Linked DNA regions of Homo sapiens. The protein of the gene in region 1 purifies or fractionates together with the protein of each later gene. This does not show direct contact. Each region holds a gene or a part of one and is shown in the gene's direction. Other genes may lie near its edges.

Evidence for each region. The genes of interacting proteins can lie anywhere in the genome.
Region 2: the proteins of CORO6 (region 1) and TRIOBP purify together in Homo sapiens (affinity purification with mass spectrometry; 2 studies listed by BioGRID and IntAct, with this or other methods). This does not show direct contact.

Annotation. Positions count from the first base shown.
Region 1 is NC_000017.11:29,616,237-29,619,985, reverse strand, and holds part of CORO6 (coronin-6), read left to right. Parts: intron 1-212; coding exon 213-335; intron 336-796; coding exon 797-926; intron 927-1,014; coding exon 1,015-1,196; intron 1,197-1,353; coding exon of another isoform or gene 1,354-1,509; exon of another isoform or gene 1,510-2,366; coding exon 2,367-2,486; coding exon of another isoform or gene 2,487-2,508; exon of another isoform or gene 2,509-2,645; coding exon of another isoform or gene 2,646-2,744; intron 2,745-2,943; coding exon 2,944-3,048; intron 3,049-3,138; coding exon 3,139-3,284; exon of another isoform or gene 3,285-3,285; intron 3,286-3,649; coding exon 3,650-3,707; intron 3,708-3,749.
Region 2 is NC_000022.11:37,720,924-37,724,672, forward strand, and holds part of TRIOBP (TRIO and F-actin-binding protein), read left to right. Parts: intron 1-2,261; coding exon 2,262-3,749.

The DNA of each region.
Region 1 (3,749 bases):
TTACCTCTCTGTGTCACAGTCCCTAATATTAAATTATTTCAACTCTGCCTTCAGTAAAGTGCAGGAAGTGGACTGGATGGGGTTAGAAGTGCAGAGAGGGATCTGCAAAGAGAAAATAGGTAATAAGGAATCGAGATGTAAGCAGATCTGCTACCCACTCCCCAAAAAACACACAGGAGAGTAGCCCCACATCTTCTTCTCCAACCCCTCAGACAGGGCGAGTGGATAAGAACTACCCACTGGTCACTGGGCACACTGCCCCTGTGCTGGATATTGACTGGTGTCCACACAATGACAACGTTATCGCCAGTGCCTCAGACGACACCACCATCATGGTAGGAGCCAGGTGGCTACTGCTGGGCAGTTGAGCAGGGGAGCAGGGAAGGCTGCCTCACCTGTGCTGGGGAAGGTGCTAAGGGTGGTAATAAGGGAGGTGCTGGGTCCCAGGGCCCTGCCCTGCCCAGCTCCTGGACTATTTTTAGCTACATGCCCACCCCCTCCCAGGATGCACTGCTTAGGACTAATTATAGCCATGGCCAACTTGGTGCCTGGAGAGCAGCAGGGCAGTGCTCTGAAGTCTCCCTGCTGGAGTGAATGGGAGGTCTCTGGAGAGCTGGCAGTGCCCCCTCCTGGCTCCCAGCTGCTTCTGTTCTAGGCATGCACCACCACATCTTGCCCTGTATTTGACCCTTACCACTCAAGAGAGCCAGTAGGGTTAAAAAAAAAGGTAGGGAAGGAGTGGAGGGACAGGGTGGCTCCTCATTCCACCCACCATATACCTTTTCTTCCTACCCAGGTGTGGCAGATTCCAGACTATACCCCCATGCGCAACATTACGGAACCTATCATCACACTTGAGGGCCACTCCAAGCGTGTGGGCATCCTCTCCTGGCACCCTACTGCCAGGAATGTCCTGCTCAGTGCAGGTCTGGGGGCTAAGGAGGGGTCCCCCATAGATGGGTGGGTGGTGGCAAAGGTGGGACCCAGGTGACCATGCCTGGCCACTCTGGGCAGGTGGTGACAATGTGATCATCATCTGGAATGTGGGCACCGGGGAGGTGCTGCTGAGCCTGGATGATATGCACCCAGACGTCATCCACAGTGTGTGCTGGAACAGCAACGGTAGCCTGCTAGCCACCACCTGCAAGGACAAGACCTTGCGCATCATTGACCCCAGAAAAGGCCAAGTGGTGGCGGTGAGTGCCTGGCCTGGCCACTCCCCAGAACCCCTTGACCAGTGGCCAGCTGTCAGCACCCTTGTACCCACCATTATCAGAGCCCCTGGTCCCGGCTTTCACCTGTCGCATCCCTGCTCCAGAGACTAGCCCCCTTCCCCCGTCTCTGCAACCACAGGTCTCTGCCCTAAGTAAGCCCCCAGCCTGCAATTCTCTGCCCGGCTCCTGTTCCCTCCCCTCCCTTGCATCTCAGAAGCTCAGAGAAGGGCTCCTCGCTTTGGGATTGAGGAGGGGAGAAGCTGGAAACTCCATCCTCCCACCAGAACCTGCATGAAACCTGAGCTCCTGGACCCCTCTCCTCTCAGCCGGCACCCAGACGCATCTTCCAGGGTCTGGGGCCTGACACTGGCTCGAGGGCTGGCCCTTTCTCCTTGTGGACCCGCTGGGCGGGGGATGGGGCAACCCTCGCGCGTTGCTTATCCCAGCCGGATGCCCTGGGAGGGCGGCGGCCCTGGCCTCGCCAGCCTCAAGTCTAACCTGGGGTGCGGGTGCGTGGGCCGCGTGCATGTCTGCGTGGAGCAAGCGCGCCGAGAGCGGTCGGGGCTGGCGCCGGGGCGCTCTAACCCACTAACCCGGCGAGCAGGAGCAAGCCCGGCCTCACGAGGGCGCCCGCCCGCTGCGGGCTGTCTTCACCGCAGACGGGAAGCTGCTCAGCACCGGCTTCAGCAGGATGAGTGAGCGGCAACTCGCGCTCTGGGACCCGGTAGGCCAGGCCGCGCCGGGCGCGCTAGCTCGCTCCTTCTCTGGGTCTGCCGGGAGCGCCTTCCCGGGCTGTGGCTGGCGCCCAAGAGGCCAGAGCGGAGCGGGGAGCTCCCATTCGGGAAAAGCCTCGCTGCGACTCCGGGGAGCCAGCAGACACCCCTGCTCTAGGGATCGGCCTTTGAGCGCGCTTAAGGGTTCGGGATCGGCTGAGAGCCGCGTGCCTCCTGCTCTCTCCAGGCCCGGATGCTCTCCAGGTCAGGGGCCAGACGTGGCCCCGCAGGAAGCTGAGTGCTTAGGCCCCATTTGTCTCTTCCCCGCATCCGCTCCTCCACCCCGGACACCCAAGTCAGCAAGCTGGTTGCTCATCCCTCCATGCTCCTCAGGGCAGGCAGCTGGGTGATGTCCCTCCCTGTCTCCCCCTCCCCCCAGGAGAGGTTTGCGGCCCACGAGGGGATGAGGCCCATGCGGGCCGTCTTCACGCGCCAGGGCCATATCTTCACCACGGGCTTCACCCGCATGAGCCAGCGAGAGCTGGGCCTGTGGGACCCGGTAACGCAGCTGGAGGCTTGGGGTGTGTGCCTCGGGGACTGGCATCACGGGAGAGTGGCCAGGCGCCCCCCACCCGCAGGGCATGCCCACCTGGACAGGACTGAAGGCTGCTGCCACCTCTGCAGCGCCTGCCATTCTCACACCCACCCCTCTGCCCAGTTTTGCTGCGTCGCGTGAAGGATCCTGCGCTGGCGCCCCCACCTGGTGATGCCGAGTCCCTGGGGGTGGTTTGCTGTGACTGCATGCGGCGCGCAGCGGGTATATGTGCAGGGGAGGAGGAGCTATGTGCGCAGGGGAGGAGGAGAGATGTGCCCAGGGGAGGGGCCTGCAACTCTGGTCACTAGAGGTTTGGGGCATAGGGTTTGGGAAGGCCAGGAAGCGTAAAGGGGCTTCTGGGGGTCCCGAAGTAGCACGGGAGGGTGGGGCAGGGCTGGTCACGCCTCCTGTGCTCGGGCAGAACAACTTCGAGGAGCCAGTGGCACTGCAGGAGATGGACACAAGCAACGGGGTCCTATTGCCCTTTTACGATCCCGACTCCAGCATCGTCTACCTGTGTGGCAAGGTGCTCACGGCCGGGCAGGGAGAACAGGGCACTGGATGGAGATGTGGAGGGCCTTGTCCGGGCGCGCCCCTGAACCGACTGATTTTGCAGGGCGACAGCAGCATTCGGTACTTTGAGATTACCGACGAGCCGCCTTTCGTGCACTACCTGAACACGTTCAGCAGCAAAGAGCCGCAGCGGGGCATGGGTTTCATGCCCAAAAGGGGACTGGATGTCAGCAAGTGTGAGATCGCCCGGTCAGCAGCCTTGGCCCCTCCTGAACACCTACCCGCCTCTGTCCCCCACTCATGTCGGGTCCTAGCCACGGGGCTTCCCCAGTAATGCAGTGCTTTGGAAAAGCGGGGCGGGGGGATAAGACAGCTCTGTTTCAGTGCCAGACCCACCGCTCACTAGCCTTACATTCTCAACTTCAGTTTCCTCATCTATAAGATGATGGTGAACACACCATCAGGGTGTTTTATTGCAGAACCAATAATGTGTGTAATGTGCAATATGCATGGTAGGCGCTGAGCAAGTGTTGGCCTCCAACCCCCTTGGTCTTAGACAGGAGAAGTTAAGGACGTGGAAGTCTGCGAGGGTGCTGAACCCTGCTCCCTTATAGGTTCTACAAGCTACACGAAAGAAAGTGTGAACCTATCATCATGACTGTGCCCCGCAAGGTGAGGGGCCGGGAGAAGGGTTGGGCAGGGCTACGAGGCGGA
Region 2 (3,749 bases), on another chromosome or scaffold:
CTCAGCTCACTGCAACCTCCACCTCCCGGGTTCAAGCAATTCTCCAGCCTCTGCCTCCCGAGTAGCTGGGATTACAGGCATGCACTACTGCATCCGGCTAATTTTTTTTTTTTTTTTTTGTATTTTTAGTAGAGATGGGGTTTCACCGTGTTAGCAGGGCTGGTATCGATCTCCTGACCTTGTGATCCGCCCGCCTCGGCCTCCCAAAGTGCTGGGATTACAGGCATCAGCCACTGCTCCCGGCTGCATCCAGCTAATTTTTGTATTTTTAGTAGAGACTGGTTTCACCATGTTGGCCAGGCTGGTCTCGAACTCCTGACCTCAGATGATCCACCCGCCTTGGCCTCCCAAAGTGTTAGCATTACAGGCGTGAGCCACCGTGCCTGGCAACCTTGCAAATTTTGAATTCCCTGCTAGGTGCTGGGAACTCAGACTTTCACCAACACCAGCCCAGAGAGGCTGGACGAGGCAGTGGCTGCAAAGGGAGAGGACAGGGGATCTTAAGAAGGCGTGAAGGGAGGGGATCTGCATGAAGGCAACTGTGGCTACTTTTTTGTTTCGTTTTTTGTTTTAAGACAATGTCTTGCTCTGTTGCCCATGCTGGAGGGCAATGGCACATTCTTGGCTCACTGCAACCTCCACCTCCTGGGCTCAGGCACTCCTCCGGCCTCAGCCTCCTAGGTAGCTGGGACTACAGGCACGTACCACCAGGCCCTGCTAAGTTTTAAAAAACTTGTAGTAGAGACAGGGTCTCGCCATGTTGCCTAGGCTGGTCTGGAACTCCTGAGCTCGAGTGATCCTCCCACCTTGGCCTCTCAAAGTGCTGGGATTACAGGTGTAAGCCACCACACCCATAGTTGTGGCTCCTTTAAGATGAGGCCATGATACCCTTTACTCTTCACCTAAAGCAGTAGCCAAGGGACATGTACATAGGGGTGCTCAACACCTGCTTGGTGACCGAGGGATTGAGCGGGGTGGAGGGTGACACACCAAGGTCATGGCAACTCTGTCATGAGGCTAGGAGTTGCAAAGAGGGTCACTACTGAGGACAGTTACATTAATCCTTTAGGCCAGTGCTTCTGAAACTATAAGGTGTACAAATCACCAGACAGTTTTGTTAAATGCAGATCCAGAAGCAGTGCATCTGGGCTGGGACCTGAGATTCTGCATTTCTGGCAAACTCCCAGCTACCAGTTTATAAAAGGTTGTCCATCCCTGCACCTTTCCTATCCTCATGGCAGCCCTAGGAGAAGCCTCAGGGTAGGAACATTTGGATACAAAAAAACAGGGGCTTTCTAGAGCTGTCGCACAGGAAACAGGCTCATTAGAACCTGTCTCTACTAAAAACACAAAAATGAGCTGGGCATAGTGGTGCATGCCTGTAATCCCAACTACTTGGGAGGCTGAGGCAGGAGAATCATTTGAACCCAGGAGGCTTAGGTTGCGGTGAGCCGAGATCGCGTCATTGCACTCTAGCCTGGGTGACAGAACGAGACTCTGTCTCAAAAAAAAAAAAAAAAAGGTCGGGCATGGTGGCTCACGCCTGTAATCCCAGCACTTTGGGAGGCCGAGGTGAGCGGATCACCTGAGGTCAGGAGTTCGAGACCAGCCTGGCCAACATGGTGAAACCCCGTCTCTACTAAAAATACAAAAATTAGCTGGGCATGGTGGCGCATGCCTGTAATCCCAGCTACTCGGGAGGCTGAGGCAGGAGAATGGCTTGAACCTGGGAGGCGGAGGTTGCCATGAGCCGAGATCACGCCACTGCACTCCAGCCTGGGCGACAGAGCGAGACTCTGACTCAAAAACAAAACAAAACAAGAAATGGGGGGAATTCCTTGGATTCTGATTGAAGGAAATAGAACTGGGAAGGGAAGACTGTCAGGTGGCTGCTGTTGGGCCCACCTCTCCCTCCCTGGGGTCACACAGGCCATTGTCAACACTTCTCTCCACAAATTTGCTTCTTCTCTGTCTTGTCCGTGGATCCCCAGACCCTGTGGCCTTCCAGTTCTTGAACCCATCTCTTGAGTGAGTCAGGGTCTCAATTTCAAATTCTTGACCTCAGCTTGAGAGAGGCATCCAAGCCCTTGTCTAATCAGCCTTGGTCAGAGAGGTGGAGTCACTTGGTACAGACAGTGAGACCTGTAGGAGGAGGGTGTGGGGTTTGCCCTAATCACTGGTCCTAAGGGACAAAGAAAGGTAGAATATGAGAGCTGCCTGGACCTCTCCCCTTACCTTGAGCCCCTCTCTTCTCTCTCCAGACACCGGCGGTGGGGGCCGGAGCGCAGGACAGCACTGGGCAAGGCTCCGGGGAGAAAGCGGGTTGTCCCTGGAGCGGCACCGGTCAACACTGACCCAGGCTTCCTCCATGACACCACACAGTGGACCTCGAAGCACCACGTCTCAGGCTTCTCCTGCCCAAAGGGACACTGCTCAGGCTGCCTCTACACGTGAAATCCCCAGAGCCTCCTCTCCCCATCGAATCACCCAAAGGGACACCTCCAGGGCCTCATCCACCCAACAGGAAATCTCCAGGGCCTCATCCACCCAACAGGAAACCTCCAGGGCCTCATCCACCCAAGAGGACACCCCTAGGGCCTCATCCACCCAAGAGGACACCCCCAGGGCCTCATCTACACAGTGGAACACCCCCAGAGCTTCCTCTCCCTCACGAAGCACCCAACTGGATAACCCCAGAACCTCTTCTACCCAGCAGGACAACCCCCAAACTTCTTTTCCTACTTGTACTCCCCAGCGGGAAAACCCCAGGACACCCTGTGTCCAGCAGGACGATCCCAGAGCCTCCTCTCCCAACAGAACCACTCAACGAGAGAATTCCAGAACATCCTGTGCCCAGCGGGACAATCCCAAAGCCTCCAGAACCTCCTCTCCCAATAGAGCCACACGAGACAACCCCAGAACATCCTGCGCCCAGCGGGACAATCCCAGAGCCTCCTCTCCCAGTAGAGCTACACGAGACAACCCCACAACATCCTGTGCCCAGCGGGACAATCCCAGAGCCTCCAGAACCTCCTCTCCCAATAGAGCCACACGAGACAACCCCAGAACATCCTGTGCCCAGCGGGACAATCCCAGAGCCTCCTCTCCCAGTAGAGCTACACGAGACAACCCCACAACATCCTGTGCCCAGCGGGACAATCCCAGAGCCTCCAGAACCTCCTCTCCCAATAGAGCCACACGAGACAACCCCAGAACATCCTGCGCCCAGCGGGACAATCCCAGAGCCTCCTCTCCCAATAGAGCTGCACGAGACAACCCCACAACATCCTGTGCCCAGCGGGACAATCCCAGAGCCTCCAGAACCTCCTCTCCCAATAGAGCCACACGAGACAACCCCAGAACATCCTGTGCCCAGCGGGACAATCCCAGAGCCTCCTCTCCCAATAGAGCTACACGAGACAACCCCACAACATCCTGTGCCCAGCGGGACAATCCCAGAGCCTCCAGAACCTCCTCTCCCAATAGAGCCACACGAGATAACCCCAGAACATCCTGTGCCCAGCGGGACAATCCCAGAGCCTCCTCTCCCAACAGAACCACCCAACAAGACAGCCCCAGAACATCCTGTGCCCGACGGGACGATCCCAGAGCCTCCTCTCCTAACAGAACCATCCAACAAGAGAACCCCAGAACATCCTGTGCCCTACGGGACAATCCCAGAGCCTCCTCTCCCAGCAGAACCATCCAACAAGAGAACCCCAGAACATCCTGTGCCCAACGGGACGATC